3 separate regions of the Homo sapiens genome follow, and regions 1 and 2 are each linked to region 3. Evidence: fine-mapped expression QTL. A gene starts in region 3. Each other region holds a variant in brackets. All regions are shown on one strand. Distances are between the middles of the regions. Region 1 overlaps MEIOB (meiosis specific with OB-fold). Region 2 overlaps IFT140 (intraflagellar transport 140). Region 3 holds the start of HAGH (hydroxyacylglutathione hydrolase).

Region 1 (8,177 bases), 34 kb before region 3:
ATTTGCTGACCCCTAGTGGTCCTCATTAAGTAGCACATAATTTGTTTTGAAATAACTTATTTTAATTATTTTTAAAATTTATTTTTTTTTTTTTTGAGACAGGGTCTCACTCTGTTCTTCCCCACCTCTACTAAAAAACCTTGTCTCATCAGGCACGGTGGCTCATGCCAGCACTTTGGGAGGCTGAGGCAGGCAGATCACGAGGTCAGGAGTTCGAGACCAGCATGGCCAACATGGTGAAACCCCGTCTCTACTAAAAGTACAAAATTAGCCAGGCATGGTGGCAGGCGCCTGTAGTCCCAGCTACTTGGGAGGGTGAGGCAGGAGAATTGCTTGAACCCAGGAGGCAGAGGTTGCTGTGAGCTGAGATCGCGCCATTGCACTCCAGCCTGGGTAACAAGAGCGAAACTCCGTCTCAAAAACAAACAAAAACGAAACCCGTTTTTACTAAAAAAAAAACAAAAAACAAAAATTAGCCTGGCATGGTGGTGTGCGTCTGTAGCCCCAGCTGCTCAGGAGGCTGAGTCCCAGCTGCTGGGAGGCAGGGGTTGCAGTGAGCCGAGAGATCGCGTCACTGAACTCCAGCCTGGGTGTACATTTCATGAACACCCTGAACTCATTCTTCCCAGGCTGGAGTGCAGTGGTGCATTCAAAGCTCACCGCACACTTAAACTGGGCTCAAGCAACCTTTCCTCCTCAGCCTCCCAAGTAGCTGAGACTAAAGATGAGTGCCACCACTAATTTTAAAATTTTCTGTAGAGATGGTGTCCTTCTATGTTGCCCAGGCTGGTTTTGAACTCCAGGCCTCAAGTGATTCTCCTACCTCACCTCCCAAAGTCCTGGGATCACAGGGGTAAGCTGTTGTGCCTGGCCAATTTTTATTTTTATTTTATTATTATTTATTTATTTATTTTTGAGACAAGAGTTTTTCTCTTGTCACCCAGGCTGGATCTCGGCTCACTGCAACCTCCGCCTCCTGGGTTCAAGCGATTCTCCTGCCTCAGCCTCCCGAGTAGCTGGGATTACAGGCGCCCACCACCACGCCTGGCTAAGTTTTGTATTTTTAGCAGAGACAGGGTTTCACCATGTTGGCCAGACTGGTCTTGAACTAACCTCAGGTGATCCACCCGCCTCGGGCTCCCAAAGTGTTAGGATTACAGGCGTGAGCCATTGCGCCCGGCCTATTTTTACTTTTATTTTTGGGACGGGGTCTTGCTCTGTTGCCCAGGCTGGAGAGCAGTGGGGCAATCACAGTTCGCTGAAGCCTTGAACTTTTGGGCTTAAGCAGTCATTCTGCTTCATCCTCCTAAGTAGCTGGGACTGAAATAACTATTTAGATCTGAATTATGACTTAGGTTGAAACAACAGTAAGAGAGAAAAGGAGAACCTAAGGTAATACCTGGATGGCTCAAGTTTACATGTTTTTCCCTCCAAATACACAGATCACCAGGGAAGGGAGCAAGGGGGCAACCTGTTACCACTTCAGCTTGAAATTCATAGAAGCATGTTATAGAATATACATCTGAAAGAACATTTTGTACTATGTATTTGAGTATTTTTATTATCATAATCAATAGTTATTTGATTAAACAAATAATCATTTGTTTATAATTGAAATGAAACTTTTCATGTAACACTTATCAAAAGGCAGAGAAGCGATTGAAACTCTTCATTTGAAAAATAAAAGCATTGGTTTTCCCTTAGATATTGGATCAGAAAGGTACACTTTCAGCTTCACCATTCGGGATTCACCAGCACATTTTGTAAATGCAGCTTCCTGGGGCAATGAAGATTACATCAAGTCTCTTTCTGACAGCTTTAGGGTTGGTGACTGTGGTAAGTTGGCATTGATTCTTAAACTTTTTCCATCATAGTGTTATTCCTGTGGTATGTTTATGGTAACTATACTGAAGGAGTTGAAATGAGACACAGTTCGTAATTCTCAAGAACTTTATCAGAAAAAGTCAAGTGTTAAGAGTATAATGCAGTGGGGCACGGTGGCTCATGCCTGTAATCCCAACACTTTGGGAGGCTGAGGTGGGTGGATTGCGTGAGTTCAGGAGTTCGAGACCAGCCTGAGCAACATGGCAAGACCCCATTTCTACAAAAAATTAGCTGGGTGTGGTGGCGTGGGCCTGTAGTACCAGCTACTAAGGAGGCTGAAGCAGGAGGGTGGCTTGAGCCCTGGAGGTGGAGGTTGCAGCGAGCCAACATCGTACCTCTGCACTCCAGCCTGAGTCACAGAGTAAGACCCTGTCTCAAAAAAAAAAAAAAAAAAAAAAAAAGACTGCAATGCGAGGCATTCAGAATGTTATTTGAAGCATACAAATGTGATAGTTATATTTTTACTAAATAACCTTACTGTCTTTGGTTTATTACATATTTCAATTTGCACCAACCCATTTTATTGTTATAATTGGTTATCTTTCTATAGACATATAATACAGCCACTGAATATATTTTGATAAAAGTTGACATTTGACCACTGAATAGATTTTGATAAAAACTGATATTTAAATTGTTAATGGGATTTTAAGGAACTTTACTTTTAGTTGAAATACCAAATCTTTTACATCTACTCACCCCAGTATCTCTTTGACAGAACAGCCTCATATAGTAGGAAGAACAGGAGACTTTGAAAACACAGAGGTCTAGATTCAAATCCCAGTTCCAACATTGACTTACATCATGGCTTTGAGAAAATTTCTTAATCTTGTTGGGTCTCAACTATGAAATAATACCTCATTAGGTTCTTGTAAATATTAAATGAGATGGTGTACCTAGTATAACGTGTGGAACTTAGTCACTCAACAGATAACTTTTATGAGCCCTAGCCTCATAAAAGGAACAAGAAAGCATGTATACTAGTTCTTCACGATAGAAAAAGAGAAAAGAGTAATGCAGGTAATGAAAACACTCCTCTTTAATACTGTGGTCTCAAGCAGCTGACTCCCCATACCGGTTATTTAGAACCTAATCATATATTGCCTTGTATTGTTAACTTTCAGGACAATGTATGGTATCTCTCTAGTTGAATAATAGGGTCATTGAACATATGGACTATGAAGGCAGAAAGCTTCACAAACTTCATAGGGCCCAGTATAGCTATAGACATCCCTTGAATAAATGCTGGAATATTAGTTACATATGGAGATAAAGATTTCAATTTTGACATCTCAGTATCAAAATATGTTATATGTTGATGATGGAGAAGATGAATGAGGTGAGGAATTTTTAAAGCCTAGAGTCGATGATGATCATAAATTAAACAGGATGTTATTTAGGATGTTAGTGTTTATCTTGTTACTGTTTTGTAATATCATCATACTTTGCCCTCTGTTTTAGTGATAATTGAAAATCCTCTGATCCAAAGAAAGGAAATAGAAAGAGAAGAAAAATTCAGCCCTGCAACTCCTAGGTAAGCATCTGTCTAGCACAGAGATTGTGCGAGAATGATCATTACTAATAATGTTGTATCAGATTAGCAGAGATCTTACTAAAAGTGTTCTGTTTCTATTTCAATAAAAATGAGGAGTTTAATTTTCTCTTACAAAATTCATCTTTGATTATGACATAATTTACTTTGATACAGAGTCACATGATAAATGGCTTTGGTTTTAGTACTTTGATTCTCATTCTTAGATTTACAAAAATTTGACTTTGTCATGTTAAAACTGAATGAGGAGAAAAGATAAACTTTGGAAATTACATCTGTCTTTTTTCATGTCAAGGTATCCTTCTACTCACAGGCTTACCATCTTAGGGCAGATTCCTTCGAAGCAGAGCTTGAGAGGAGGACTCTTGTGGGAGTGGTTGGTTGAGGGTGAGCTCTCAGGGGAACCCTGCGAGGATAGACCAGGAAGCAGCTGAGCAGAGAAGTGGGTTCACCTGGAGCCTCAGCAGGAGCCGGGAGGGAGCTCTGGAGTGGGAGTGGCCCCTTAGAGCAGTGCCCTGGCTGTAGTCCATCCACTCCCCAAACCCGCAGGATGGGGCGGGGCATCAGCTCAAAGGCGGGTCTGGCAGTTCTGGAGAGAAGGGTGTAGCTGTGCCCTGTACCAGCCTGTAAAGGGCTCTTGGTGGGCACAGCAGTCTACAGCATTTACACTCGCATCAACTGTGACCCGTTCCCACCTTCTTTTCTGACCTCATCTTATGCCAGACTCTCAAGCCTCATTTCTCTGTAGCCACAGTGAATTTCTTTATATTTCATGAACACCGTGAACTCATTCTGCACTAAGAACGTTTGTATTTCCTTTTATTTTTATTTTTTATTTTTTACTGAGACAGAGTCCCACTCTGTTGCCCAGGCTGGAGTGCAGTGGCACGATCTCGGCTCACTGTAACCTCTAACTCCTGGGTTCAAACCATTCTCCCACCTCAGCCTCCCAAGTAGCTGTGATTACAGGCACACGCCCCACACCCAGCTAATTTTTGTATTTTTAGTAGAGGCGGGGTTTTGCTATGTTGGCCAGGCTGGTGTCGAACTCCTGACCTCAAGTGATCCGCCCGCCTCGGCCTCCCAAAGGGCTGGGATTACAGGCGTGAGCCACCGCGCCTGGCCAAACTTTTGTATTTTCTATTCTCTCTCTGCATAGAACTTTCTCCCATCTGTTTGACTATTTGCTTCTTTGGGTTATTGACTCACAGCTTAAATGTCATCTTCTTCAACCTTCCCCATCTACTCTGTTTGTGGTAGCGCTAATGGTCAATTACTGGGATTTTGCCCTGGCTTTTGTCA[G/C]CATAACCCAAGTCACCGTCTGAGATTGTTTGATTCATTGTTCTTGGGTCTCCCCCTCACATATGTGAGCCTCATGAGATCAAAGGTCTTGTCTGCCTTCTTCACCACCATATCCCTTGTGCCTAGCATAGGGTCTGGTATATAACAGATTCTCAGTATTCATGGAAGTGATGGATGGATGGTTAGATGGAGAGAATATTCTTGGTAGAGGGAAGAAACAGGAAACCTCCTGTCTTTTCCAGAACAGTTAATATTAGTTTGAGCCATATGAAACTGCTGATGTTTTACTATTTTTCATCTAGAAATACCAATTTCATAATGTAATAGTCTGATACGGCTGGAATGCAGGGCACGGGCAGGAGGAGAAGCTTAAGGTGGAAGCAGAGATATTTTACAGACAGCTTTGCTTTCATACTGAGTTATTTCCTTTGTGACTGGTAGCCACAATGATGGTCTTTGAGCTGGGAAATAATATTTTCATATTTGTGGTTTAGGAAGATCACTTTGCTTATGGAGGATGGACTGTAGGGGAATGAAGCTTAGTTAGGATAGCAAGGCAGTGGCTTGGGAGAGAAGTGATGAGGTAGGTAAGTGAGGCCGAGCAGTGGGGAGGAGGTGGGGCTGGGTTAGAGGACTGCTGGGGCACAGAGTGCAAGGGCCGGGAGGGACTCGGTGCAGGAGGGAGAGCTCCTCAGTTCGGGCTCACTGTGCCAGTGTTCTGCGTCTGCTCCATGCAGAGCTCAGTAGGGGTAGGAAAAACACAGTCCCTGACCTGAGGCACTAAGGCAGAACAGCCAGGTCCATAAGAGAGAGAAACAACCAGTCCTTGGGTTTGTATAACCCCTGAAAGTTTCAGAGCGCTTTTTTGCTCCTATTTTTTTGGAGAAGGAAACAAGCGCAGAGTCTTGGGCAAGATCAGACAAATGGTATGTTTAGAACCCCGACACGAATCAATTCTCAAAACATTTCCTTAATGAAAGTGCACTGTAAACAAAAAATGTTTTGCTGTATTATTCAATGTTTCTAAGAGTAAAAAGTATATATTAGTATTGTCTAAATTTCAATGAAAAATGTAGTTTAAATGTGGACCTGGAAATATTTTTCTTTCCAAAGATCACTTTCAAATAACTTTCTTGTGTTTTTGCAATTTAGCAACTGTAAACTGTTGCTCAGTGAGAATCACTCAACAGTAAAAGTTTGTTCCAGTTATGAAGTGGACACAAAGTTACTTTCTTTGATACATTTACCTGTTAAAGAGTCTCATGATTATTATTCACTGGGTGACATTGTTGCAAATGGACACAGTCTTAATGGGAGGATTATTAACGTGCTTGCAGCTGTGAAATCGGTAAGTTAAAACCCCGACAAAGCCAAGTGCAATCTGGCAGGGGAGGTGCAGTCACTTGATCTGTGTTTGGGATGGAGTGGTCACGATCAGCTGGGGTAACTTTTCTTCTCTATCTTGGTAGTATGCTGAATTAAGAAAACAGTAACACTTCTCATTAAAGGGAAACTAGCTTTTTATCTGTGGATGAGTAGTAAAATAAAATTGTATTTGAATGCTAAATGCAGTGTTCCACTCTGCTCGTAAATGATCTGCTAACTATAGGAGAACTTTTTATACATTGCTTAAACAAAGATGTAAATGGAAAGGGTAAGCTTATTGACTCGAAAATCTCCATGACCTTCCTTGAAGGGGCGTAGTTGAATAAGTTAAGGGATCAGTTCTGTGCCTTTGTGCTCAGAGCTGCCCAGCAACCAGGGAGGGAGTGGGAATACACGCTGCCCTGCTGTAGGGCTCCATGGTCTAATAGGTGCAGTGGGACCATGCTGGTGAGGTGCACGGGAGGATGGCCCTCCGTGGGGCACCAGGGGGGTGTTCCCTTCTGGTGCATCAGCGTCTGTCTGAATTACTGTAGCAAGTTCTGAGCTCTGTAGTTGGACAGACCAGAGCCACAAGGCGGAGATTGAGATGTAGACCTCAACGGTAAAGTTTCACAAAATAAAGTACATGAAAATTAGTCCAGGCACAGTGGCTTACACCTGTGATCCTAGCACTTTGGGAGACCAAGGCAGAGGGATCACTTGAGCCCAGTTCAAGACCAGCCTGGGGCAACATGGTGAAACTCCATCTCTACAAAAAATACAAAAATTAGCCGGATGTGGTGGTGTGTACCTGTAATCTCAGCTGCTTGGGAGGCTGAAGTGGGAGGATCACCTGAGCCTGGGAGGTTGAGGTTGCAGTGAGCCAAAATCATGCCACTGCACTCCAGCCTGGGCAATAGAGGGAGACCCTGTCTCAAAAAAAAAAAAAAAAAAAAAAGGCCTGGCGTGGTGGCTCATGCCTGTAATCCTAGCACTTTGGGAGGCTGAGGCGGGTGGATCACAAGGTCAGGAGTTCGAGACCAGCCTGGCCAATATGGTGAAACACCATCGCCACTAAAAATACAAAAATTAGCTGGGTGGCCTGGTGCGGTGGCTCACGCCTGTAATCCCAGCACTTTGGGTGGCTGAGGCGGGAGGATCACGAGGTCAGGAGATCGAGACCATCCTGGCTAACACGGTGAAACCCCGTCTCTACTAAAAATACAAAAAATTAGCCAGGTGAGGTGGTGGGCGCCTGTAGTCCCAGCTACTCAGGAGGCTGAGGCAGGAGAATGGCGTGAACCCGGGAGGCAGAGCTTGCAGTGAGCCAAGATTGCGCCACTGCACTCCAGCCTGGGCGACAGAGCGAGACTCCGACTCAAAAAAAAAAAAAAATTAGCTGGGCATGGTGACAGGTTCCTGCAGTCCCAGCTACTTGGGAGGCTGAGTCAGGAGAATCACTTGAACCTGGAAGGTGGAGGTTGCAGTGAGCCGAGATCGTACCACTGCCCTCCAGTCTGGGCGACAGAACGAGACTCCGTCTCAAAAAAAAAAAATTAGCTGGGCATGGTGGCAGGTACCTGGAGTCCCAGCTACTCAGGAGGCTGAGGCAGGAGAATTACTTGAACCCAGGAGACAGAGGTTGCAATGAGCTGAGATGGCGCCACTGCACTCCAGCCTGGGCGACAGAGCGAGATTCTGGGTTGATAAATAAATAAATAAAGAGGCAAGAGTAATTTCTTAATATAGAGAGGGATGATAGTCAAGAGACAAAAAAAAAAAAAAAGGAAAAAACACACATGCTTATGATAGTTCATGTAAGTAAATGTGAATTGCTTGTTATATTAAATGGTGACTGAGAGAACGTGACCCTTTCAGATGGCAGGGCCCTGGCTGTGGAGGACATGCCTGCCACCTGGGGAGCATCTGTATACTTTAGGGAGAAGGAATAAGCCCGCTATATGATCATCTTGAAAAACAGGAGAAGTCACTTTGTAGGCAGTTTATGTTCAATCCTATTCAGTTGTTCAAAGGAGTGCTCAATTGTTTGCGATTTCCCCAAATTCTAGACAGT
Region 2 (8,177 bases), 250 kb after region 3:
TGGGAGGCGAATGGGAAGCAGGCACATCCTACATAGCCGGAGCAGGAGGAAGAGAGAGCGAAGCGGGAGGGGCCACACTCTAAACAGCCAGATTTCGTCAGATCTCTATCACAGAACACACTAGGAAACTGTGAGAAACCACCCCCATGATCCAGTCGCCTCCCCCCAGGCCCCACCTCCAACATTGGAGATTACAATTCATCGTGAGATTTGGGTGGGGACACAGAACCAAACCATATCACCTCGCTAGATGGGATTTCCCGCGTCAGGTGCTTGATGGTGAAAATGAATCCTAGGACAGCTGTTTAATCTGTGGCTGTCACTTCAGAAATCGGGAGACAAGGCAAGGACCTTTTGCAGTGAAAAGGATGACTTTGCAGGACTTTGAATACACGGGGCTATGAAAAGAAAATAAATCCTTGCTGGGCTTAACGTGCACCCTGACGGCTGGCTGGGTGGCTCCAGTTCAGGACATAATGTCCTTAGCCAGGCTGTCTCCCGCATGTGTCTTGTGGGAGGGCCAGGGCGACCTCTAAGAGGTTCTCTTTTTTTTTTTTTTTTTGAGATGGAGTCTTGCTTTGTCGCCCAGGCTGGAGTACAGTGGCGTGATCTCAGCTCGCTGCAATCTCCGCCTCCCAGGTACAAGCGATTCTCCTGCCTCAGCCTCCTGAGTAGCTAGGACTACAGGTGTGCGCCACCACACCCAACTAATTTTGTATTTTTGGTAGAAACAGGGTTTCACCATGTTGGCCAGGCTGATCTCGAACTCCTGACCTCGTGATCTGCCTACCTTGGCCTCCCAAAGTGCTGGGATTACAGGCGTGAGCCACCACGCCTGGCCAGGAGGTTCCCTTCTGAGTAAAGTCAGGCATCCACTGCCCCGTCTGCATCCCACACACACTGGCTGGAACCTGGGGGCAGACACAGTGTGTTGATTTCCTGTGGCTGCCCTAACAAATTACCACAAACCGAGGGGCTTCCGACACAGACATTTTTTCTCTCACAGTTCTGGAAGCCAGAAGTCTGCAATCCAGGTGCTGTCCAGGCTGGTGCCTTCTGGAGGCTCTGAGGGTGAGCCTCCAGCTCTTCCACCTTGCCTCTTCCAGCATGAGGTGGCGCTGGCAGGCTTTGCTGTTCCTTGGCTTGTGCACTTGACCTTGAACCACAAGGTCTGAACTGCAGGGGCCACTTAGATGCACATTTCTTCTGGTTCTGCCACCCCGAGACACCAAGATCAGCAACCTCCTCTGCCTGTTCAGTGTGAAGATGATGAGGATGAAGAGCTCGATAATGACCCACTTCCACCTCACAAATAGTAAACATATTTTCCCTTCCTTACGATTTTCTTAATAACATTTTCCTTTTCTGGGTGACTTTATTGTGAGAAAAACAGTATATGATACATACAACATATACATATGTGTCAATCAACTGCTTACGTTATTGGTAAGTCTTGTTGTCAACAATAGGCTGTTACTAGTTAACGTTTTGGGGAAGTCAAAAGTTATATAAAGGCCGAGCGCTGTAACTCACATCTGTAATCTGAGCACTTTGGGGAGGGCGAGGTGGGAGGACCACTTGAACCCAGCGGTTTGAAACCAGCCTGGGCCGCATATTGAGACCCATCTGTTAAAGAACAAAAAAAAATTGGCTGAGTGTGGTGGCGCACGCCTATAGTGCCAGCTACTCAGGAGACTGAGGCAGGAGGGTGGCTTGAGCCTGGGCAGTCAAGGCTTCGGTAAGCTATGATTGCACCACTGTCCTCCAGCCTGGGCAACGGAGCCCAGCTAATGTTTGTATTTCTTTTTAGTAGAGACGGGGTTTCACCACATTGGCTAGGCTGGTCTTGAACTCCTGACCTCGTGATCCACCCACCTTTGCCTCCCAAAGTGCTGGGATTACAGGCGTGAGCCACCACGCCCGGCCATGTCTTTTTTTTTTTTTTTTAAGGGACAGGATCTCACTATGTCACCCAGGCTGGACTTGAACTCCTGGCTCCAGTGATTGTCCTGCCTTAGCCCTGCAAGCATCTGGGACTACAGGTCTGAGTGGACATATCTTTGGGAGGGGCACCATTCAGCCCACTGTGTGCAGCAAGGTTCTGTGACCAGGTTGAGAGCTTTTGTCACGAGCCTGATTTTAGCTATCGTTGTGATTTTTATCCATCTCCAAGTTCCTTCTTGGGACCCAGCGTCTGATTGCCTGGGGCGGCCACATTCCTGTCCTTGTACCTTACATGGTGCTTGTGTGCTCCCATCATGGATTGTCAATTCTCGTTGGCATCCAGACGGGAGACAAGTCAGCGATAAGTGCCAAGGAGAAGACGGAAGCGGGTGGGCCCCTCTGTGTAGGACTTCTGTCTGAATCAGGTGGAGGGAAGACATGGGGAGGAGCCGCATGGCTGCAGTGCCAGCTGGGAGAGAAGTACGGGCAGAGGGAGCTGCCGCGACCACATGTTTTCCTGCAGCCTGTTGGGTGCGAGGGGAGGCAGTAAAGCTGGAAGGGAGTAGTTGAGAGCCTTCTGGGCATCCCAAGCCCAGAGCAAGCACACTTGTTGCTGCCATCCCTGCCCACCCCTCCGTCTTTTTACCTATGCCTCTCTGACTCCTCCCATTGCATGTGGGCATCTGTTGTGGACATAAAGGGAGGTACAGCAAGGCTTTTTTTTTTAAGTTGGGGTTCTGCTTTTTTTACCCAGGCTGGAGTGCAGTGGCACAATCTCAGCTCACTGCAACCTCCGCCTCTGGGACTCGAGCAATTCTCCTGCCTCAGCCTCCCTAGTAGCTGGGATTACAGGTGCCCGCCACCACGCCCGGCTAATTTTTTGTATTTTTGGTAGAGACGGGATTTCACCATGTTGGCCAGCCTAGTCTCGAACTCCTGACCTCAGGTGATCCACCTGCCTCAGCCTCCCAAAGTGCCGGCCCGGCCAGGCTGTGTTCTTAAGGACAGATGAGGGGCAGCTGCTTAGACGACCCTTGAACAATGCAGGGGTAGGGGCGCCAACCACCTGAGCAGTTGAAAATCCCCATATAACTGTTGACTCTGCCAGAATTGCAGTACTCGCAGCCTACCATTGACTGGAAGCCTCACCAACAAC[A/G]TGAACAGTCGATTAACACATATTTCATATGTTCTATGTATTACATAGTGCATTCTTACAGTAAAGTAAGCTAGAGGAAAGAAAATGCTACTAAGAAATCATGAGGAAGAGAAATACATTCATAGTACTGTACTGTGTTTATCGATACCCTAAGTCTATAGGATGAATCATCTTTCTGAAATGGTGGCATCCACAGGTGGCGTCCACATCTGCAGACCTGAATCTACTGTCCATATCAAGCAATTCCACGTTTTCTTGTAATGTCACGGCTTTCCCTTGCTTCTCGGGAGCACTTCCAGCATCACTAGTGGCATGTCACATGGGTCCCCCTGGGGTTATTCACCTTTTACAGTATTGCACGAAATGCATGAAAAATCCTCTAGAACCGTGAGAGGTCACTTTTTAATGTGATGTGCATTTTGCTGGAGAGAGGAGCTGCCCACTCGGAGGTGATTAGCACTGCACAACATTTTAAGGGGATCTTCGAAACACTTGAGTGAAACTGAGCACAGTGGCAACAGGAGGCAGCTGTGAAATGCCGACAGGAGCACGATGTGGGCCACAGCTCCCTGTCTGCAGTTATGATTGCAGATCGCATCTTTCTGTTGGTTTACACTTCGCTCAGCTGCACATAGTGCCATCTCTGGAAGCATGTGCACATTTGTGTATACTTTATGGACGTGGCTGATAAAAGACTAGTATCTACCTATATTTTATGCATACGCGACATACCTGTTAATTTTTTTGTTCTTTCTAGGCTACATAGTTTGTCTGAGTTTTTTCAAATTGTTACAAATCTCCAAAAAAAAGTCAAAATTTGTTTTTTTTTTTTTTGAGACGAAGTTTCCCTCTGTCACCCAGGCTGGAGTGGAGTGGTGCGATCTCGGCTCACTGCAAGCTCCGCCTCCTGGGTTCACGCCATTCTCTTGCTTCAGCCTCCCGAGTAGCTGGGACTACAGGCGCCCACCACCACGCCCAGCTATTTTTTTTGTATTTTTAGTAGAGACAGGGTTTCACCGTGTTAGCCAGGATGGTCTCGATCTCTTGACCTCATGATCTGCCCGCCTCGGCCTCCCAAAGTGCTAGGATTACAATCATGAGCCACTGCACCCGGCCATACTTTTTTTTTTTTTTTTTTTAAAGACAGAGTCTCACTCTGTTGCCCAGTCTAGAGTGCAGTGGCATGATCTCGGCTCACTGCAACCTCCACCTCCCAGGTTCAAGCAGTTCTCCTTTCTCAGCCTCCCGAGTAGCTGGGATTACAGGCATGTGCCACCACACCTGGCTAGTTTTTGTATTTTTAGTAGAGATGGGGTTTCACCATATTGGTCAGACTGGTCTCAAACTTCTGACCTCAGGTGATCCACCCGCCTCAGTCTCCCAAAGTGCTGGGATTACAGGTGTGAGCCACTGCGCCTGGCCTTTAAATATCTTTATTGAAAAAAGAAGTTCATGTAAGTGGGCCCTTGAAAATCAGACCTGTGTTGTTCAAGACCTGTGTTTGCCAAGAAAAGACCTCCAGAGGTGGGGCTGTGCAGGCACCAGTGGCCTGCAGGGAGAGGGCCAGTGGCATGATGGGAAAGGGTGAATGGGCTTCTGGGAGAGGGCCAGTGGCATGATGGGAAAGAGTGAATGGCCTGCTAGGAGAGGGTCAGTGGTGTGATGGGAAAGGGTGAATGGCCTGCTGGGAGAGGCCAGTGGCATGATGGGAAAGGGTGAATGGCCTGCTGGGAGAACACTAGTGGCATGATGGGAAATAACAGTGGGCCCACTGAGAAGTCCTACTTGTAGAGCTTGGGAAGATACCTAACAACAGTTGCCATGGAGTTGGGTCCTTTTATTCCTCTGTTAATTTTTTATTTTATTTTATTTTCAGAAACAGGGTCTCACTTTGTTGCCCAGGCTGCACTGCAGTGGCAATCATAGCTCACTGCAGTCTTGACCTCCTGGGCTCAAGCGATCCTCCCACCTCAGCCTCCTGAGCGTGGGACCATAGGTATGCACCACCATGCCTGGCTACTTTTTTATTTTCATTTTTATTTATTTTTTTACAGATAAGATCTCATCCTGTCGCCCAGGCTAGAGTGCAGTGGTGCCATCATAGCTCACTGCAGCCTCAAACTCCTGGGGTCAATTCATCCTCCTGCCTCAGCCTCCCAAGTAGCTGGGACCACAGGTGCCAATCACCATGCCTGGCTAATTTTGTTATTATTATTATTATATTTTTGTAGACATGGGGTCTCACTATGTTGCCCAGGCTGGTCTTGAACCAAGCTGAAGTGACCCTCCTGCCTCAGCCTCCCAAAGTGTTGGGATTAGAGGTGTGAGCCACCATGCCTGGCCACTAATTTATTAAGTTACAAAAGGAATACATGTCAGTTGTAACTAGTAAGGTGGCTCTGGCGTGAGTAAGGGTGGGTTAGTGATCCCTCATGACCCTTCTTGGACACCCAGCATGTCCTTCCAGGTCACTATCCCTCCTCAGGATGCAGATGCATGGCTGCTGTTAGTGTTTGTGTCAGGGACGCAGTGACTACAGACACTTAGGAGCTTCCAGTCCTTAAAAGGACAGCTTCCTAGGCCAGAACTTTGGGGCCCCAGCCCTGCGTATGTTTCAGGGAGTCACATCTGCCCCATGGAGAACCTGAGGGAGGGGCCTCCCATGCAAAGGTCAAGTGCCATGGAAGGGGGTGGGATATGGGACCAGTTGGTGGTGGGAGGTGGGAAGGGAGGCAGGAGGGCTGGTCACCCTGAGGGCAGTTGGGGTTGAAGCTAGGAGTGACAGGGTACATTTTGTTGACCAAAAAGAGACTGAAGCACAAAATGTGATTTAAACAGTCTACTTGGCTGGGCATGGTGGCTCATGACGGTAATCCCAGCACTTTGGGAGGCCCAGGTGGGAGGATTGCTTTAGCCCAGGAGTTCCAGACCAGCCTGGGCAACATAGTGAGACCTCGTCTCTGCAAAAAAATACAAAAATATTAGCCAGGCATGGTGGCAAACCTATGGTCCCAGCTACTTGGGAGGCTTAGGTGGGACAATTACCTGAGCCTAGGGAGGTTGAGGTTGTAGTGAGCTGTGGTTGTACAACTACACTCCAGCCTGGGCAACAGAGTGAGACACTGTCTCAAAAATAAATAAGTAATTAAGTGAGTAGTCTACCTGAGCCAGGATAAAGGCAGCTGCCCAGAAAACTCAGCCCCGAGGAACACTGGGCCTGGGCTCCATTTTACGTTTGTTACAGGCAGGTTTTTAAGGCCGAAAAGAGGGACCGGGCACAGGCTAATGTCAGGTTGTTGGTCAGGAATCCTCTTTGGTTGATGGAAATGCCATTGATTAGCAATGGGCTGAGCATTGGTGCAGGTATGGTCTGCGGCAGCTTATCAGGTTAGTTCTCAGCTACCTGTGGCGGCAGCAGGCAGTTTCCAGAGAAGAACACAGCTCAAGGGAGAGCAGGGCGTGGCTGCTGCCTCATTTAAGGTCTCTGGGGGCCTGATCCCTGAAAAGGACTTACCTTCCTCTGATAACAGTTCTTTCCTTTCCCCAATTTTGACTTATTTTCTTGGCTTTGTGTTATTTTCTCCCTAGAAAGTAACTTCTGTGCCAGCGTAGTGGGGAGCCAAGCTTAAGGGTGGAGAAGAGTGAAGTTGTGGGAGACGCCGCAGGAGAGCAGCTCAGCCTGGCCCCAGGCAGCAGCCACCAGCAGAGCTGGAGTGGAGGGGCACTGTGGCTCTTATAAGGGGGGTGACTAGTTGCATGATGGGTGGCTACAGAGAGTATAGAACTGAGGATGTTCTGAGTTTTCTAGCCTGAGAGGTTGGGTTTGTCGTGGCACCTTTAAGACAGGAACTCCAGAGGCAGAGCTGGCATAGGGGGCAGGGCAGGATGCAAGTTCGAGTTCGTGGTGCCTTGGAGAGCCCTTAGGGGTGTCTAAGAGACAGTTGGAAATACAAGCTCTGGAGGTCAGGAGCTGGGTCAGTGCCCTGAAGACAGTACTTTGGGAGTTGGGAATGTATTGACATAGAGATGTTAAAGAATGTAAAAGAGTTGAGCTCAGATCTGAACCCGGGACCCAGCAGGTAAGGGGCAGGGCAGGGAGTGAGCTCACCGAGGAGCCTCCAGTGCTCTCTGTCATCATTAATAGTGTCAGCCCTGGCCCCATCAGCTAGTCCGCTCCCCCTGCTCTTTTTATCCTGTGTTCAAGCAGCCACTTGCTCATTCCATAAGCATTTATTAGGCTCCCACTGGATACATCAAAATGAAGTGAGCTTCCTCAGCTTGGAATACTCCCACCCTGACTCCAGCCATCCGTCCCTCACCCTCAGTTTCCTAAACACACTGTGCAGGCTCCTGCCCCTTTGCTGGCTTTTGGAGTCTGTGTTTAGATTTCCGTGCCCACTAAGTTCTCCTGGAGCTCTGCCCACCTTCCAGCCTGCCTTGCCACTCAGATTCTGTGCAGCTCCCATGCACTAGATCTGTGCCTTCCCTGCTGCCTGTCTTGGCCCCAGGATGCATTCAGCCGTTCGCATCTGACTCGCTGCCCCCACGTGGAGTGCCCTGGGGATGTGCCACTCACTTGTGATGCTCCTCCCCCAACCCACTGCTGGGCAGGGTGTAGGCATTCACTGGGCATTGGTTGAATTGAGCCAAGAGCTTCGCTTTGAAACTCAGAGGATTAAGGTTAGTCCCTAAAAGACACACCACAAAGCATGAGGTCTGCTCCAGCGCAACTGTGGGGTGACTGTGGGGTATATGCTTTCTTTTTTGTTGTTGTTTCTTTGAGATGGAGTCTTGCTCTGTCGCCCAGGCTGGAGTGCAGTGGCATGTTCTCGGCTCACTGCAAGCTCCACCTCCCGGGTCCACACCATTCTCCTGCCTCAGCCTCCCGAGTAGCTGGGACTACAGGCACCCACCGCCACACCCGGCTAATTTTTTGTATTTTTAGTAGAGACGGGGTTTCACCGTGTTAGCCTGGATGGTCTCGATCTCCTGACCTCATGATCCACGCGCCTTGGCCTCCCAAAGTGCTGGGATTACAGGCGTGAGCCACCGCGCCCGGCCTGTGGGGCATGCTTTC
Region 3 (8,177 bases):
GCTCATGCCTGTAATCCCAGCACTTTGGGACGCCCAGGCGGGTGGATCACTTGAGGTCAGGAGTTCGAGACCAGCTTGACCAACATGGTGAAACCCTGTCTCTACTAAAAATACAAAATTAGCCGGGTGTGGTGGCGTATGCCTGTAATCTGAGCTACTTGGGAGGCTGAGGCAGGAGAATCACTTGAACCTGGGAGGCAGAGGTTGCAGTGAGCCGAGATTGTGCCACTGCACTCCAGCCTGGGCAAAAAGAGTTAAACGCCATCTCAAAAAGAAAAAAGAAAGAAAGAAAAAAAAGAAAATTGTATGGTATGAGCAAACTCTATTTAAAAAATTACAATTATATCCACAGACTTGGAAGAACTTGCAATAAATGCTTAACTTTGGCTGTCTCTGGGTAGATGAAATTTTTGGTGTTTTGTTCTAATTGCTAATCTCTATTTTCTGACTCTTCTGTAATTACATGCATTGCCAAGCAATGAAAAAATAATACTAAAAGTAGTTAAGATAGCATGATACTTAATAAAGAAATCCAATTATGGCACTTCCTCATACTATATTATAATTTAAGCATGGGGTTGCAGCATACCTAAGTGTCTGATTCTTCTTATGTATCTACTTACAAGATGCAGCCTGCATTGTGGTCAAAACTTCACGTTCTGGTCTTGGGGGAGCTGGGTTACATCTCGGCTCTGCCACTAAGCTGAGTGACTTTAGCCAGCCTTCGCAGCCTCTAGATCTGTCTTCATCTGAGTAATGGGGATGGTAGTGATCATACTAAGCTTATGGCTTGGTTGCTGGTTACATAACACGTGGAAATACAGAATAAACTGCTTGGCATGGTGCCTAACAGTACTGTGTTCAATACATGGGGACCGTTACTACTCAATCAGATGTCCTAGGCTTTCTTCAGGGGCCAGCAGATGATGTGAACGCGAACAGGAACCCCTGCCGAAGCCCAAAGGACTCCTCCAGGCATTGACAGCTATGCTGTGCATCTTGCCTGGATGTTTTTTCAGAGGAGGGTGCAGGCAAGAGCAAAAGCAGCAGTCCCAGGCTATTCAACTTCCACAAAGCCTCCTTATCTCCGGTTGGGAAGTACAGTTGCTGATTAACTGTGTTAACACAGCACAGTGCTCAGAAGGCCAAAGGTCAAAGACTAAGGTCTGAAGCCCCACAAGGAGGAAATATCCCTCCTCGTCATTACTGGGGGGAAAAAAATTACCCTTGTAAGCCACTTAGAAGGGAGCACCTTTATTTGGAAAACAGTAATTTCAAAATCATCTCCCGAACTCAGAATCGATGGGTCTGGGTAGATACCCTAAGTAAACAGGTGAAATCTTCATTACTTGTTCACTTATTAAGTAAAATTTTAAATTAACCGATTATGTACAGGAGTGTTTTTCACATTTCCTGATAAGAATCACTTGGAATGCCCTGTAAACACAGCTTCACTGGAGATTAATCCTATCAAATTGATTCAGCAAGTCCGAGATGGGCCAGTAATTTGTGGAGATTTTTATTTTTACAAATGCTTCCTGATGATGACCAAATCTAAGAAAATTTGGTAAACAACGGAAAGTTATCTGGAACATAACTTTCAGTTTTCTCTGCAGTTTTTAAGTGCTGAACTACTGATCATCCTAGAGATAACCCACTGAAAAGTCTTCTCTAATCCAGTTTTACAAAAGGAAAGTCTTTTTAACATTTGGTTTGATAAAATGTTTTCCGAAGAAATACTTTACTTGCCTGTTTTCATTTCTGGCCCACCCGTTCTACTTCACGTTTTCTTGAAGGGTTCATCTTCTATGAGTTGAGGCATAGCAATCTAATCATTTTTAAAATAAATGGTTTCTTTTTTTTTTTTTTTTTTTGAGACGGAGTCTCGCTGTTGCCCAGGAGTACAGTGGCGCAATCTCAGCTCACTGTAAGCTCCGCCTCCCGGGTTCAATTGATTCTCCTGCCTCAGCCTCCAGAGTAGCTGGGACTACAGGCGCCCGCCACCACGCCCGGCTAATTTTTTGTATTTTTAGTAGAGACGGGGTTTCACCCTGTTAGCCAAGATGGTCTGGATCTCCTGACGTCGTGAGCCGCCCGCCTCGGCCTCCCAAAGTGCTGCGATTACAGGCGTGAGCCACCGCGTCCGGCCAATAAATGGTTTCTAATTAAAGGATTGTGACATTTAATAGCCGTTGCTTGCTCTTGTCTTGCTCCCTTCTCTCTCGAAACTTGTTAAGAAATAACTCAATATTCTGGCTTTTCCACTTTAAATGTCATACTGACCAGCCCGTGTATGCCAGCCTCGATCTCATCGTTTTCTTTAACCGGTCCAACTCCCTTTGGCGTCCCAGTCAAGATAATATCTCCTTCTTCCAAGGTTATGATCTTAGAAACATAGCTGATGATGTAGGGGATGGAAAAAATCATGGAGGATGTCTCACCCTCCTGTCTGAGTTCGCCGTTGACCTTGAGCCAGAGCTTCAGCTTGTGAGGGTCAGGGATCTTCTCCTTGGGCACGAACGCGCTGACCGGGCAGGACGCCGTGAAGCTCTTCGCCAGAGTCCAGGGCAGCCCCTTCTTCTTGCACTCGTCCTGCACGTCCCGGGCGGTCATATCCAGGCACAGGGCATAGCCGCCCACGTAGTCCATGGCCGCAGCCTCGGGGACTGCGCGGCAGCGCTTGCCCATCACCACGCCCAGCTCCAGCTCGTGGTGCAGGTTGCGAGTGTACGCGGGCATGAGGATGGGCGAGCCCTCGGGCGCGTAGGCCGTGGACGGCTTCAGGAACAGCACGGGCTCGCTCAACACCGCGCTGCGCATCTCCCTGACGTGGTCCGCGTAGTTCCTCCCCACGCAGACGATGTTCTTTCCCCACTCCCAGAAGCGGGACAATGGCCTGGATGCTGCCATGATTCCCATCAAGTGCCCCTGTAGTCACGTGGGCTGGGCCGGTCAGCTGATGCCTACGGCATCCCGGAGAGGACCAACTGCCTCGGAACGCTGTCCCCCGCAGCGACGGCCCGTTCCACCTCGCGATCTGCCGGGTACCCGGGCGGCGTGGCGCTCGGCCTCCAGGGATCCACTGTGCGGTGCCAAAAAAGAGGCGGAGGCTCGCGGCACAGCTCTCCCGGCGCAGCTCTCGGGCCGCCGCCGCCGCTCCCAGGCCCGTCTCCCGGCCCGTGGCAGTCGGGGCTCGCGGACAAAACAAGTTGAGCGCGAGCGCGTTGATTGGTTGGCGGACGGTGCGAGGTGGACGCTGATTGGCTGAGGGCAGCGCGAGGCGGGCGCTGATTGGCTGCGACGCGCCGACGCCGGTGTTTTGCAGTCCTGGGCAGCTCGGCAGTCCAGCCCGGCCCGGGTCATGGTGGTGGGCCGAGGGCTGCTCGGCCGCCGCAGCCTCGCCGCGCTGGGAGCCGCCTGCGCCCGCCGAGGCCTCGGTGGGTGCGGCGGGGCGGTGCGGGCCGGGGGACGCGGGCCTGGCGGGGCGGGCAGCGGGCGGCGCCGGGCCGTCGTTTGGCGACCGCTGACGCGGTGTCTGTTGCGCAGGTGCCTAAGGCCGCGCTGCCGGGCTCGAGCGGAGGCGGCGCAGGCGCTGAGGCTGGCGCGGAGCGGGCGCGGGGCCGCGGGTGCGGAAAGCGCTAGGTAAGCAGGGCCAGGCCTGCGTCCGCCGCGGCCTCCACGCTCGGGCTGGGCCGGCCGCGCCCCTGACGCCTCCAGGGCATCGCGTCCTGCCCGGGCCGGCGCCGAGGAGAGCCTGGGGCGCGGCTCTGAGGCGCAGCGGGCAGGGCCCCGGGACGCCTGGCCCACCCCGCACCTGCTGCCCCGCTGCAAGGACCGCGGTCTCGCGGCGCCGCCTGCGGTGGTGGAGCTGCCCGCCCGGCGCCGGAGCCCCCGTCTGGGGACCCGGCGTGTCATTCGCCCGAGGTGGTCGCGCGGCCGGGCCAGGCCAGCGCCCCGGGCGGGTGCGCAGCGCAGGGCACTGGGCGGGCGGAGGCGCAGACAGGGAGGCGTCCCTGGCGGTTTCCAGATCTCGCCGAAAGCTGTCAAGGCTCTGCAGGGGGTAGAATGTCGCCATTGCTAAGGAAAGGACATGGATTTTGAGGTCCTCAGAATTACAGTTTTAGGGACATTCATAAGGGTCCAGGCAGAGAGTTCCAGCGGGACTGTGTGCATCGGCAGGGCGTGCGTACCCCATTCTAAGGGAGGCCCCAGCCCCCGTATTTGGTGCCGCCCAGTTCAAGGGAAGCAAGATGCTGTGAAACTTCCTGATTTAAAAAAGAAGTGCAGTGACGCACGCCTGTCATCCCAGCACTTTGGGAGGCCGAGGCGGGAGGATCGCTTGAGTCCAGGAGTTCCAGACCAGCCTGGCAACATGTTGAGACCTCATCGCTACAAAAACTAAACAAAATCAGCCGGGCGTGGTGGCACACAACTGTAGTCTCAGTCACTTTGGAGGCTGAGGTGGGAGGATCGCTTGAGTCCAGGAGGTCGAGGCTGCAGTGACCCTTGATCGCACCACTGCACTGTAGCCTAGGGGACAGAGTGAGACCATATCTCAATTTTTTTTTGTTTTTGGGGCCAAACCGAACATGTTTCTGGACTTGGTCCAGGCCCCAGGCTGCAGGTCCTTGACCTGTTTGTACAAAGTATTACAGTTACAAAACAGCAAGCCGGGAACATTTGCCAGGCAGTGCTGGGCTGAGTGATATGGAAAGGGAATACGGTTTCTGCTGGTGTTGGCACCAGCTGCGTCTTTCCTCAGAAATAAAGGCACCTCCCTGGGTTGTCAGCTTCTTCAGGAGGCTGTGATGGTCTCCAGGGGAGGCTGAGCACCAGTTGTAAATGACATTTTCTTCGCCTGGGCAGTGCAGTGGCCAATCTCGGCTCACTGCAACCTCTGCCTCCCGGGCTCAAGCGAGTCTCCTGCCTCAGCCTCCTGAGTAGCTGGGACTACAGGCGCTCGCCACCACGCCCAGCTAATTTTTGTATTTTTTAGTAGAGACAGGGTTTCACCATATTGGTCAGGCTGGTCTCGAACTCCTGACCCCGCGATCCGCCCGCCTCGGCCTCCCAAAGTGCTGGGATGACAGGCGTGAGCCACCGCACGTGGGCAGTATTTTTGTTTGTAATGTTCTGCTCCTTGTTTGTAATGGAGCTCCTTTCCAGGAGGACGCCCGGCACTCGGAATCCTGTCACAACCCTTCTGCACCCCACCTGCAGCCCCCAGCACCCACACTCTGCTTGTTGTGCTCCTTGGGCTGGGGTGGTGCTGAGGCTAAGGGGAAGGGGAATAACACAGGAAGCTGCTCATATAGAAATCTTGGTATTATTGTTCCTGAGGAGAATGATCTGGAAAATGCCCAGCTGGTTGTCAGGCGGGTAATAGGATATCTTTGTGCAGTGATTGAAACTATAGTTTGGGCAGTTTCCCCGGCTGTGGAAATAAGGTCGGATTCCGCATTTCGGTGGGCCCTGGAGACGCGTGTGTCTGTCAGTTGGTGGCTGCTGCCCATTTCTGGATCCCTTTTGGGAGAAGCCCCTGCCGTGGCACCTACCCCAGGACTGCACTGTCCTCTGCCACCTTCTGTGGTTTCTTCCCCGTGTAGAGCGGAACTGAAGGTATTGTCGGGGCCCCCAGGTATTTTTAGATTTAGTAGGAGTTTCATTGCTGAAAATATTTTTGCATTGGTCGACTGGGTGGCAGACACTTTTGTCCCTTGGTCACCCACTCCTCCCAGCTCTTGGGCCTTCTGGGCCCCTGTGGCAGAGTCCTTTGGGTCAGTTGGATGGTGGTTTTGTGTCCTCCACACTTGAATCTGGGGGCAGTTGTGGCCAACTTTCCGTCTCAAAGGAACTGCTGATTTTTGTGCATATCTCAGATTCGTGCTGTTCAAGAGCAAGTATTGTTTGTTTGTTTTTTTTTTTTTTTGAGACTGTCTCACTCTGTTGCCCAGGCTGGAGTGCAGTAGGGCGATCTTGGCTCACTGAAACTTTCACCTCCCGGATTCAAGCAATTCTCCTGCCTCAGCCTGCCGTCAAGTATTGGTTCTTTCTGGCTAGAGGCTGAGAAGGGCTGTAACTGCATGGAACGCAGGCTCGCTTAGTCAGTGGTGGCAGCACAGCTTGCTGGAGGGCAGATGGCCAGGCGGGGGCACCCCTAGTCTGTGTTCCCTTCTTCACATTCTGTCCCTGAGTCCGGGGTGTGAATAATCCAGCACTGGCAGTGGTTCGCCTCACAATCACAAGCTGGCCTTCCTGTCCTTTTAGAGTTCTCAAAAAAGAAAATAGAGATCGTAAGTCTGAAACAATTGATTTCCATGAATGTGAGCATGAGTTAGTTCCTGTGTTCTCCTCAGGGATATATGAAGATATTCCTTTTTTTTTTTTTTTTTTTTTTTTTTTTTAAGGAACAGGTTATTGTCTTGTCACCCAGGCTGGAGTGCAGTGGCACAGTCATAGCTCACTGCAGCCTCAAACTCCTGGGCTCAAGTGATCCTCCTGCCTCAGCCTCCGGAGTAGCTGGGACCACAGGCATGCACCACCATGCCTGGCTAATTTTTAAATTTGCAAAGACAAGGTCTTGGCTGGTCGCGGTGGCTCACACCTGTCATCCCAGCACTTTGGGAGGCCGAGGTGGGCGGATCACAAGGTCAGGAGATCGAGACCATCCTGGCTAACACCATGAAACCCGTCTCTACTAAAAAATACAAAAAATTAGCCGGGTATGGTGGCGGGCGTCTGTAGTCCCAGCTACTCAGGAGGCTGAGACAGGAGAACGGCGTGAACCTGGGAGGCGGAGCTTGCAGTGAGCCGAGATCGCGCCACTGCACTCCAGCCTGGGCGACAGAGCGAGACTCCGTCTCAAAAAAAAAAGAAAAAAAAAAAGACAAGGTCTTGCTATGTTGCCCAGGCTGGTCTCAAACTCCTGCCCTCAAGCAGTCCTCCCATCTCAGTCTCTTAAAGCGCTGGGATTCCCGGCAAGAACCACCATACCTGGCCAGAATATTCCTTTTCAAAGGAACCTAGAAAGGCTGGGAAGCACTGCAGCTTGCGCGTCCTGTCGTGGAGGGCCTGGCGCGGCTGCCCGCTGAGTTGTGCTCTGTGTCTGCAGGTCCAGCCCTGCTGGGAGTTTTCTGCCACACAGATTTGCGGAAGAACCTGACCGTGGACGAGGGCACCATGAAGGTAGAGGTGCTGCCTGCCCTGACCGACAACTACATGTACCTGGTCATTGATGATGAGACCAAGGAGGCTGCCATTGTGGATCCGGTGCAGCCCCAGAAGGTGCGCATGGCTGTGCCTGGCTCTCCCTGCCCTGGTCACCCAGCTCGGAGTCCTCACCCCCGATGGGTTTCCTAACCGCAGTGTCCTTGCAACTTTGCCTAAGCTAAATGGAAATTAGTCTCCGGCCACTCTGTTAACAGGGCTCCAAGAAGGGTGGAGGCGAGAGGCAGTGACACAGAAAGCGCTGTGCAGTACAATCCTGGGCACTTGAGTCTTCTTGGGGGCTTTCTGCCCCTGCATGCTGCCTCTGGGGGTGGTGCCCTCAGAGCTGGAGGGGCTTGGAGCGGTCGTAGGTGGTTGCAAGAGTGTCAGGCTGAGCAGGAAGGAGAAGGTGCTTTCACTGGCTCTCCTGGAGCAGGGCAAGCTGGCAGGGTCAGGACGGGCCATGTCAGCGGCCCCTCATGGCGTGTCCTGGGTTCTGCTGGGCACCCTACCATATAGGCCAGCAAGCCAGGCCTAGGAGTGTGACAGGCCTTTGTCCTTCCCCGGGGCCACTGCAGGTCGTGGACGCGGCGAGAAAGCACGGGGTGAAACTGACCACAGTGCTCACCACCCACCACCACTGGTAAGTGCCGCGTCTCACCTGGGGGTGTGGGACCTGGCTCACTTCTCGCCCCGGTGGGTTTAGGGACATCAAGGCCTGTCTCCCCCCACGGCTCTGTCTGCTTTGTGAGGACAAGCCCCCAGCAGACTTCTGAGAAAGACCCGGGACTCACCGTAGCCCCCAAGGGGCAAGTCTGGTGCTCAGTGACTCTGAGGCCCCGAGGGTGAGGGGAGAAGGTTACAGCCTTACCCTCAGGCCCCACCCCCCGGCTCTCTCCTGGGCCATGCGGGTTTGTGCCCTGGCACGTTGGCCTCAATGTTGGGGAGGAAATGAGTCTACAGGTGAGTGG

Evidence for each region.
Region 1: its variant is fine-mapped to the expression of HAGH in cerebellum (GTEx, PIP above 0.99).
Region 2: its variant is fine-mapped to the expression of HAGH in whole blood (TOPMed, PIP above 0.99).

Annotation. Positions count from the first base shown.
Region 1 is chr16:1,855,644-1,863,820 of GRCh38, reverse strand. MEIOB (meiosis specific with OB-fold) reads left to right here. Exons shown (of 14, transcript NM_001163560.3): 4 at 1,705-1,836; 5 at 3,346-3,418; 6 at 5,891-6,086. Among named protein-coding and RNA genes, the nearest start is that of MEIOB, 12 kb to the left of the region's middle. The variant G/C (reference allele first, on the strand shown) is at 4,739.
Region 2 is chr16:1,572,349-1,580,525 of GRCh38, reverse strand. All of the region lies in intron 13 of IFT140 (intraflagellar transport 140), which reads left to right. Among named protein-coding and RNA genes, the nearest start is that of IFT140, 36 kb to the left of the region's middle. The variant A/G (reference allele first, on the strand shown) is at 3,101.
Region 3 is chr16:1,821,972-1,830,148 of GRCh38, reverse strand. It overlaps HAGH (hydroxyacylglutathione hydrolase), which reads left to right and starts at 3,324. Exons shown (of 9, transcript NM_005326.6): 1 at 3,324-3,437; 2 at 7,112-7,284; 3 at 7,785-7,849. The coding sequence starts at 3,362. It overlaps FAHD1 (fumarylacetoacetate hydrolase domain containing 1), which reads right to left and starts at 2,943. Exons shown (of 1, transcript NM_031208.4): 1 at 1,239-2,943. The coding sequence starts at 2,910. The coding sequence ends at 2,245. RefSeq lists enhancers at 2,724-2,913, 6,178-6,247 and a silencer at 3,004-3,973.